Homo sapiens: one gene and its partner. The protein of the gene in region 1 purifies or fractionates together with the protein of each later gene. This does not show direct contact. Each region holds a gene or a part of one and is shown in the gene's direction. Other genes may lie near its edges. The genes, in order: NYAP1 and ACOT9.

Evidence for each region.
Region 2: the proteins of NYAP1 (region 1) and ACOT9 purify together in Homo sapiens (affinity purification with western blotting, with the first as the bait; one study listed by BioGRID). This does not show direct contact.

Annotation. Positions count from the first base shown.
Region 1 is NC_000007.14:100,482,565-100,487,018, forward strand, and holds the start of NYAP1 (neuronal tyrosine-phosphorylated phosphoinositide-3-kinase adapter 1), read left to right. Parts: upstream 1-1,362; 5' UTR 1,363-1,437; intron 1,438-2,663; 5' UTR 2,664-2,747; coding exon 2,748-2,815; intron 2,816-4,256; coding exon 4,257-4,454. UniProt on the Homo sapiens protein: Activates PI3K and concomitantly recruits the WAVE1 complex to the close vicinity of PI3K and regulates neuronal morphogenesis.
Region 2 is NC_000023.11:23,705,101-23,708,903, reverse strand, and holds part of ACOT9 (acyl-coenzyme A thioesterase 9, mitochondrial isoform a precursor), read left to right. Parts: intron 1-959; coding exon 960-1,027; intron 1,028-2,164; coding exon 2,165-2,276; intron 2,277-3,045; coding exon 3,046-3,136; intron 3,137-3,309; coding exon 3,310-3,395; intron 3,396-3,803. UniProt on the Homo sapiens protein: Mitochondrial acyl-CoA thioesterase. Catalyzes the hydrolysis of acyl-CoAs into free fatty acids and coenzyme A (CoA), regulating their respective intracellular levels. Regulates both mitochondrial lipid and amino acid metabolism.

The DNA of each region.
Region 1 (4,454 bases):
CATGCCCAGCTTATTTTTTCTATCTTTAGTAGACACGGGGTTTTGCCACGTTGGCCAGGCTGGTCTCAAACTTCTGATGTCAGGTGATCCACCAGCCTCGGCCTCACAAAGTGCTGGGATTTACAGGCGTGAGCCACCGCGCCCCGCCAGTGTTAAGAGTATTTTATGTGTGGCCCAAGACAAATTCTTCTTCCAATGTGGCCCAGGGAAGTTAAAAGAGTGGACATCCCCGGACTAAAGCGTCTCTCAGAGAGGTTGCACGATCTGCCTAAAGCCACACAGCAAGACTGCAAAGACGCTGCCATGGAAAGTAGCATTCGCAGGCTCCAGGGATCAGGCCGTGCCTATCTTTGCCGTGCCCATTTTCCAGCCCGTGGAAGGTACAACCGAGGTCTTCTCGAGCTGATTTACCCCCGCTGCAGAGCTGTGAGCCCAAGGGATTTCAGAGGGAGTTATTTCTAGGGGAGATAATGAGAAAAGAAAAGATAAATGAGAAAAGGGGAGGTCGAGGTCACGTCCCGTAGCGGCCCCCCGACAGTGCCAGGGTGGTAGCCGCGGTGGCCACACTCAGGTCGACCCTGGTCGTTGCGAGCGGCGCCGGGGGAGTCAAAGGTCACGAGAGGAGGACTCGGGCCACGGGGGCGGATAGCTTTGAGCCCAGACGGTGGAACGAGATCCGGGCACCCCCGGGAGGCTGCAGGGGGAGGCAGCCGATTCCCCCGCGAGCCAACTCAGGTGCTCTCCTGGCACCTGGGGGCGGTGGGGAAAGGGGGCGCGGCCGCCGGAGCACGCCCCCTGCTGGGCTGAGCCGCCGCCCGTCCCGTTCCCCACCCTCGGAGCCCCTCGGCCCGGAAAGCGGCACCCCCTGGCGGCCCCAGCGCCTCACTGCACCCCGGGCCCCGCAGCCGCAGCCTCGGCCCCGGACCGACGCTGGGTGCGGACCCGGGGCGCGCCGGGCGTACGGGTTGCACGGGGTGCACGGGGTACACGGTGCGGGGGCGTGGGCCCCAGGCTGCCGCTGGGGGGCGCCGCCGCACGCCGCTCCGCCGGGGCCGGGGAGACCGAACTCAGCACCGACCGGCCGGGCAGGGGGCGAGGGGCGGCGAGGAGCGGACGCCCAAAGACCGCGACGGGCTGGCGCCGGGCCCCCAGCGCCCCACGACCTTCCTCCGAATCTGCCCCCGCAGGCTCCGCGGCTCCCCCGCCCCGCGCCCCAGCCCCACGGCCCCGCGCCGCACGGCCGCTCCCGTTCCGTCCTTGGAGGGTGTGGAAGGGTGGGTTTGGGGCCGGGGGCGGGTCTGGGGGCGGACCCGGAGGCGGGGCTGTCTCTGCGGCAGGGCCCAGCTTCGCTCCCCCCGGTCTGTCTCTGTCTCTCCTCCTCCCTCCTCCTGCTCCGGGCGGAGCCCGGCATGGGGGGGCCGGCGCCCGGCAGGCCAGGTACGGTGATGGAGAACCTGGGGAGGCTTGGTGCAGGAAGGTTGGGGTGGGGGGACAAGGGACAGGGAGGATTGGCGGAGCGAAAGGCGGAGAAGCCCAGGGTAGCAGGACAAGGGGAAGGGGAGGGGTGCCAGGAACCTGGGGCCCTTGGATGGAGAAGGGGGATGAAGCAGGCCAGGTTTGGAACAGGGGAAGGGGGAGGACGGCTGTAAGGAGGGGCGCCTGGGAGGAGAAGTGAGGCTGAAGGCGAAAAGAAGAGTGTGGGTTTGGGGGAAGGAAAACCGGAGCAGGTATGGAGGCCGCAGCCCAGAAGGTAGCAGTGGGGCCAGACTGGAGCCCCCCGGGTGGGATTGAGGGGCGGGGACTGGAAGAGGAAAACCAGGGGGCCTCCCAAATCCTGGAGGAAGAAGAAGGTGATTGGGGCCATCAGCGAGGGAGGGAGGCAGAGACTAAACCATTGCTAAAGGGCCAGGGAGCCAGAATCGGGGTGGACCAAGGCCCAGGCCCGGGGAAGGACTGGAAGTGGGGGAAGGCAGGCAGTGGAGATAGATGGATGGGTGGTATTTTAGATACCCAACTCAGGGTGTCTCCCATCCTTCCTTCAGCGTCCCCACCCTGCCCTCATGAGATCCCCCTACAGCCCAAGATAGGGGGGAGAGTCTGACCATCTCCCCTTTTCCCAGTGGGGTGCAATGTACGCAAGTAGGCCCTGGGCATAACTCTGCCTGTAGGTGTGTCCAGTTCTGTGTAGCAGATTTGTGTGTGTCTGGAGGTCTGTGGGTGTGTCTGTGGGTGTTTATGTCTGTGTGCCTGTCTATCCCTAGGTTTCTGTTTACCTATGCCAATCTCTGCGTCTGGTCCTCTGTCTGTAGATGTGGGTCGGTGGCTCCGTGGTTTGTGTGTCTGAATGTGTACTTGTGTAGCTGAGGGGTTGCAGTCCGTTTGTGGGGCCTGTATGGGTGGTGGATCGGGATGTCTTTACACAAGAAGGGAATCTGTGTTGACCTGGTCTCTCCAGAGTGTGTATTTGGGGCTCTGAACACCTTTGTCGGGGTCTGTGTCTGTCTGTCTGTGGGTCCTCGAAGCTGTGTTGGGTTTTCTGTCTGTGTTTTCCTCTCTGAGGACCCGAGTCATGTCTCTTCTCCGTTTTCTCTCTTTCATTCATCCCTGGCCCCCACCCATCCCACCTTTCTTTTTTTTCCGTTCTCACCCACCCCGCCCGCCAGTGGATCCGGGACCCAGGGAGGGCCGCCCCCCGGGCCTGGTGGCACTGAGCAGGGCCCCCCAGCCCCCACCTCCTGCCCCACGAGATGAACCTCCTCTACCGAAAAACCAAGCTGGAGTGGAGGCAGCACAAGGAAGAGGAGGCCAAGAGGAGGTAAGGCTGCACCCCAGACTGCTCCCTTCCCTTCCGCACCTCTGCCTGCCCCCTCACTGGGCCACAGCCCTTCTCGGGGGCCGGCAGCCTTGTCATGAGTGAGCTCTCTGATCTCAGAGTCAGTACGGAATGGCCAGGATTGCACACACTGTCCTGGCCCAACTCCTGCTCTCCTGTGGGGGGGTTTACAGCCTAGGAGCACCCCTTTGGTTGTTCCCCATCCCCAGAGGCCCGAGTCACTCCTTCCTGACTCACCTCTGGCCTGTAGCCCTTCTCCTTTCTGCAAATTTGGGGCTGGCTGCGGGCTCTCCTGTCACCTGACCTTGGAAGGGGCAGGCCCCGCCTCTCTCCCAGGGTCTAGGGAAGGGGTCATTTCAGGGGCATCAGAGAACATCCACTTGGCCTCCTCCCAGTTTTCCCTGCTGGGGGAGGTGAGTGGTCAAGTGATGGGGTTGTGTGTGTGGTGGGCAGACATGCAGGCTGGGCCTTGCCAAAGAGCCAGGGCAGGGGACGACCTCCAGACCCCTGCAATCCCTGTCTGCCTCCCCGCTTGCCCTTCCAGGGACCTGGGGCCTGGCCTCTCCCATCCTTCTCTCCTTCTCCTCTTCTCTCCCATTGACTTCACAGCCACTTGGAGCCTGACTCACAGCCACCTCCCTTTTCCTTCCTCGCAACTGTGGAGTTTAATTCTTGTTGTTAATTAGATTAATCAGAGTGATCGCTGCAGCGATCTCTCCCTAATGAAGGGCTAGTAGACAGGGCCTTAATGAGTGCCCACCCCACACAGCTCTCCTCTCTTCCCTGCCAGCCGCCCCCCCAACCCTCTGCCACCCTCCACTCAGACAGAAGCTCAGGGACAGTGGAATGGAATGGGGGTGAGCCGGGGAGGCTGACAGAGAGAGAACAGCACCAGGGGAGAGGGAGGAAGAAGGATGGGCCAGGGAGGGAGGCTGCTCTGGTCCTGGAGGGGCACATCCTGCATCTGGGAGAGGAGGTGTGCCGTGGGGGCAGAGGTCACAGTGGCTGGGCAGGAGGGGTAACCAGAGGCCAGGTGTGGGCCACTGTGAGAGTGAGAGGGGCCAAGGAGCTGTGGGGGGCAGGCGTGTCCATCTGTGTTACCTGGGTTTGTATCTCTACCTCTGCACAAGGCTGTCCACACAGGTGCCCAGGCTGGGATCCGCCAGCCCCAGGGATGCTCCCCTGCAGGCATACTCACCCCTCTTCTCATCCCTGCCCCCAACTGCCTTGTGTTTTTAAAGCCCAAGATTCTGCCTGAAGCCCCTTCATTGGTGCCCTGGACCTTCTGGCAACCCTGTCCCCACCCAGGCTCCCGTCCTCTTCCCTGGGAAGCCACAGGGTTGCTGACACCTCTTGGGGTGGAGAAGGGGGATGCCCAGGTCCGAGGCCCTTCCTCCACTCCATCGTGGCCTTCTCTCCCCAGCTCCAGTAAGGAGGTGGCCCCCGCTGGCTCGGCTGGGCCCGCGGCCGGCCAGGGGCCTGGGGTCCGCGTGCGGGACATCGCCTCGCTGCGGCGCTCCCTCAGGATGGGTTTCATGACGATGCCCGCCTCCCAGGAGCACACCCCGCACCCCTGCCGCAGCGCCATGGCCCCACGCTCCCTCTCCTGCCACTCGGTGGG
Region 2 (3,803 bases), on another chromosome or scaffold:
TTTACATATTTTTTCCCATGAATCATTGGAAAGTAAGTTTGAGACTGCTTCACCCATTCAGGAGTTCAGCATGTATTTCCTAAGAACCAGGTATTTCTCCATAACCTCAATGCCTTTATTATATCTGAGAAATTCAACAGTGATACAGTTATTTAATATGTGATCCGTATTCAGATTTCACCAGTTGTCCCTAAAATGTCCTTTATAGCTATCTTCCTGATTCAGGACCCAATCCATCAAGGATTGTATATTGCATTTGGTTATCCTGTTTCTTTAGAATAGTCTCTCTGCCATTTGCTGTCTTTCAAAAATTGATATTTTTAAAGAGTTCAAGCCAGTTTTCTTTTTCTTTTTTTTTTTTTTTTCTTTTTTTGAGACAGAGTTTCGCTCTTGTTGCCCAGGCTGGAGTGCACTGGCACGATCTCGGCTCACCGCAACCTCCACCTCCTGGGTTCAAGCAATTCTCCTGCCTCAGCCTCCCGAGTAGCTGGGATTACAGGCATGTGCCACCACGCCCGGCTAATTTTGTATTTTTAGTAGAAACGAGGTTTCTCCTTGTTGGTCAGGCTGGTCTCAAACTCCCAACTTCAGGTGATCCCCACCCGGCTTGGCCTCTCAAAGTGCTGGGATTACAGGCGTGAGCCACCACGCCCGGCCTAAAGCCAGTTTTCTTGTAGAGTGTTCTACAACCTATATTTGACTGTTTCCTCATGATTAGAATCAGGTTAAACATTTAGCAGATGCCAGTATCCTTTTTATAATGTTAAGTTTCTAGTGTGCAATTAAGGCTGTAACTGTAAGGCTTCCCTAATTGTTCCAGCGTTCACATGTAAGGCAAGCAGTAAGCACTACCCAAAATGAAAAGCAGATTCTTTAAAAGTAGTAGGTGATTGTTCATCTTCAAGTTTTATTAGATAATGGCATATCTTAAATTATATTCTTTTTTTTCTTCTTTTTAGGCCGGCATTTGTAAATCCACTCATCCCTGAAAGCCCAGAGGAAGAGGAGCTCTTTAGACAAGGGGAATGTACATTAATTTGTTTATAATAAAATAAATTTGAAAAGCACATTAATTACGCTGCAGAAGAGATTATTTAAGATTTTATATGGGCTCTTCATACCAGTCAAATGTCTTTTTTTTGTTTGTTTTTTTGTTTGTTTTTTTTGAAATGGAGTCTCTCTGTCTCTTGCCAGGCTGGAGTGCAGTGGTGCCATCTCGGCTCACTGCAACCTCTGCCTCCTGGGTTCAAGTGATTCTTCTGCCCCAGCCTCCTGAGTAGCTGGGACTACAGGTGCGCGCCACCACACCCAGCTAATTTTTGTACTTTTAGTAGAGATGGGGTTTCACCATTTTGGCCAGGATGGTCTCGATCTCCTGAACTCGTGATCCGCCTGCCTTGGCCTCCCAAAGTGCTGGGATTACAGGCGTGAGCCATTGTGCCTGGCCCAAATGTCTTATTCATACCAATAATTTATTGAAATTAAAAATATGCTATTCTTTTTTCTTTGGAGTCCATACTTTGAATGATTTTATTGATCAGACAATATTTATTAAGTGAAGTAATTTGTTATCTCCGTTTTTTTTTTTTAGACAGTTCTTGCTCTGTTGCCCAGGCTGGAGTTGGGCTTGGGTCCAGGAGTTTGAGGCTACAATGAACAATATTGTAGTCTCGATCTCCTGGGCCCAAGCTATCCACCCACCTCAGCCTCCTGAGTAGCTAGGACTATAGGCACGTGCCACCATGCCTGGCTAATTAAAATTTTTCTTTGTAGAGACAGGGGTCTCACTATGTTGCCCAGGCTGGTCTTGAACTCCTGGACTCAAGCAATCCTCCTGCCTCCGCCTCCCAAAGTGTTGGGATTACAGGCATGAGCCACTGCACCTGGCCTGTTTTCTCCGTTTTAATGAAGTGAGAAATGCATCTCAATGGGATAACTGCAGGTCAGGGCTCTGGATCAGGATGATATCAAGTGATCTCACACTGAACCAATATAATTTCCATGTGGAACCAAAGACTCACTGGGAGTTTTATGTGGCCTCTGCAGTTTTCTCTTGGATACGTGTATAATTTTCAGTGAGATTTTGAAAGGCATCCCAGGTCAGAATACCGTGTGCTGTAGTGCGACCGTCCTGATCATTGCTCCTTATTCTCCCTTGTTCCAGTGAACAAGGGGAGAAGAATTGCCTTCAGCTCCACGTCGTTACTGAAAATGGCCCCCAGCGCTGAGGAGAGGACCACCATACATGAGATGTTTCTCAGCACACTGGATCCAAAGTAAGGATGGTGAGATTCCACGTTGGGAAAACATTTAAACCTTGGCCTTTTTTTTTTTTTTTTTTTTTTGAGACGGAGTTTCGCTCTTGTTACCCAGGCTGGAGTGCAATGGCACGATCTTGGCTCACTGCAACCTCTGCCTCCCGGGTTCAAGTGATTCTCCTGCCTCAGCCTCCGAGTAGCTGGGATTATAGGCATGCACCTCCACGCCTGGTTAATTTTGTATTTTTAGTAGAGACGGGGTTTCTCCATGTTGGTCAGGCTTGTCTTGAACTCCTGACCTCAGGTGATCTGCCTGTCTCCACCTCCCAAAGTGCTGGGATTACAGGCGTGAGCCACCACACCCGACCTTTTTTGTTTTTGAGATGGAGTCTTACCCTGTTGCCCAGGCTGGAATGCAGTGGCGTGATCTTGGCTCACTACAACCTCTGCCTCCCGGGTTCAAGCAATTCTCCTGTCTCAGCCTCCCAAGTAGCTGGGATTACAGGCGCCCGCCACCACGCCTGCTAATTATTTTGTATTTTTAGTAGAGACGGGGTTTCACCACGTTGGCCAGGCTGGTCTCAAGCTCCTGACCTCATGTGATCTGCCTGCCTCGGCCTCCCAAAGTGTTGGGATTACAGGCGTGAGCCACCGCGCCTGGCCTAAACCTTGGCCTTCTCCAGAGCCACAGTTGTCTGAGTGTATTGGGAGTGACTTGCAAATGTTTTTACTTTTCAACAAGAGAACCATGGCATTAACAGGGTTTAATAAATATTCATTTGTACAGGACTATAAGTTTTCGGAGTCGAGTTTTACCCTCTAATGCAGTGTGGATGGAGAATTCAAAACTGAAGAGTTTGGAAATTTGCCACCCTCAGGTATTATAATTTAGTGAGAAATCCGAATAGGATAGCTTCCGTTCATGATATTTGTCCAAGATTTGACACACCTTTAAACTGGCCTTTGTCCTGTGGCATTGTTAATTCCTCTGTTCTGTATACAAAGGTGGCCATAAGTTTTGTATTTATTGATATTTATTTATGTCCTGTAGGAGCGGAACATTTTCAATCGGATCTTTGGTGGTTTCCTTATGAGGAAGGCATATGAACTTGCGTGGGCTACTGCTTGTAGCTTTGGGTGAGTTACATGTAAGGCAGCCTTAACTTCTGAGAAGCAATTTATATCACCCCACTGAAATGAAACATTTCGGACCAGTCTGGGTGTGTGTGGGAATATGTTATGTTTTTGAATGAATACCACACTGATACCAGCTGAATTTGATCTTCATTTTAGAAGGTTGTTTCTCTGACTTTGTAAGTTCATACATTAAAAAAACTACTGAGAAAATACAGTGATGATATGTAGAAAGGAAAAGATATAGTTATTTTGGCCCTAATCTGCTCACGATGGCGTCTCTTACCATTTCTCACTGGTAGGATCTTTTCCCCCTTCTCTAACTTTATTCTTCGTTCATTTTTATTTTGCTTCAGCTAGTTGTTAGAGGAAACAATTGAGATCATCTGAATTTTGCAATATACCCCAAAT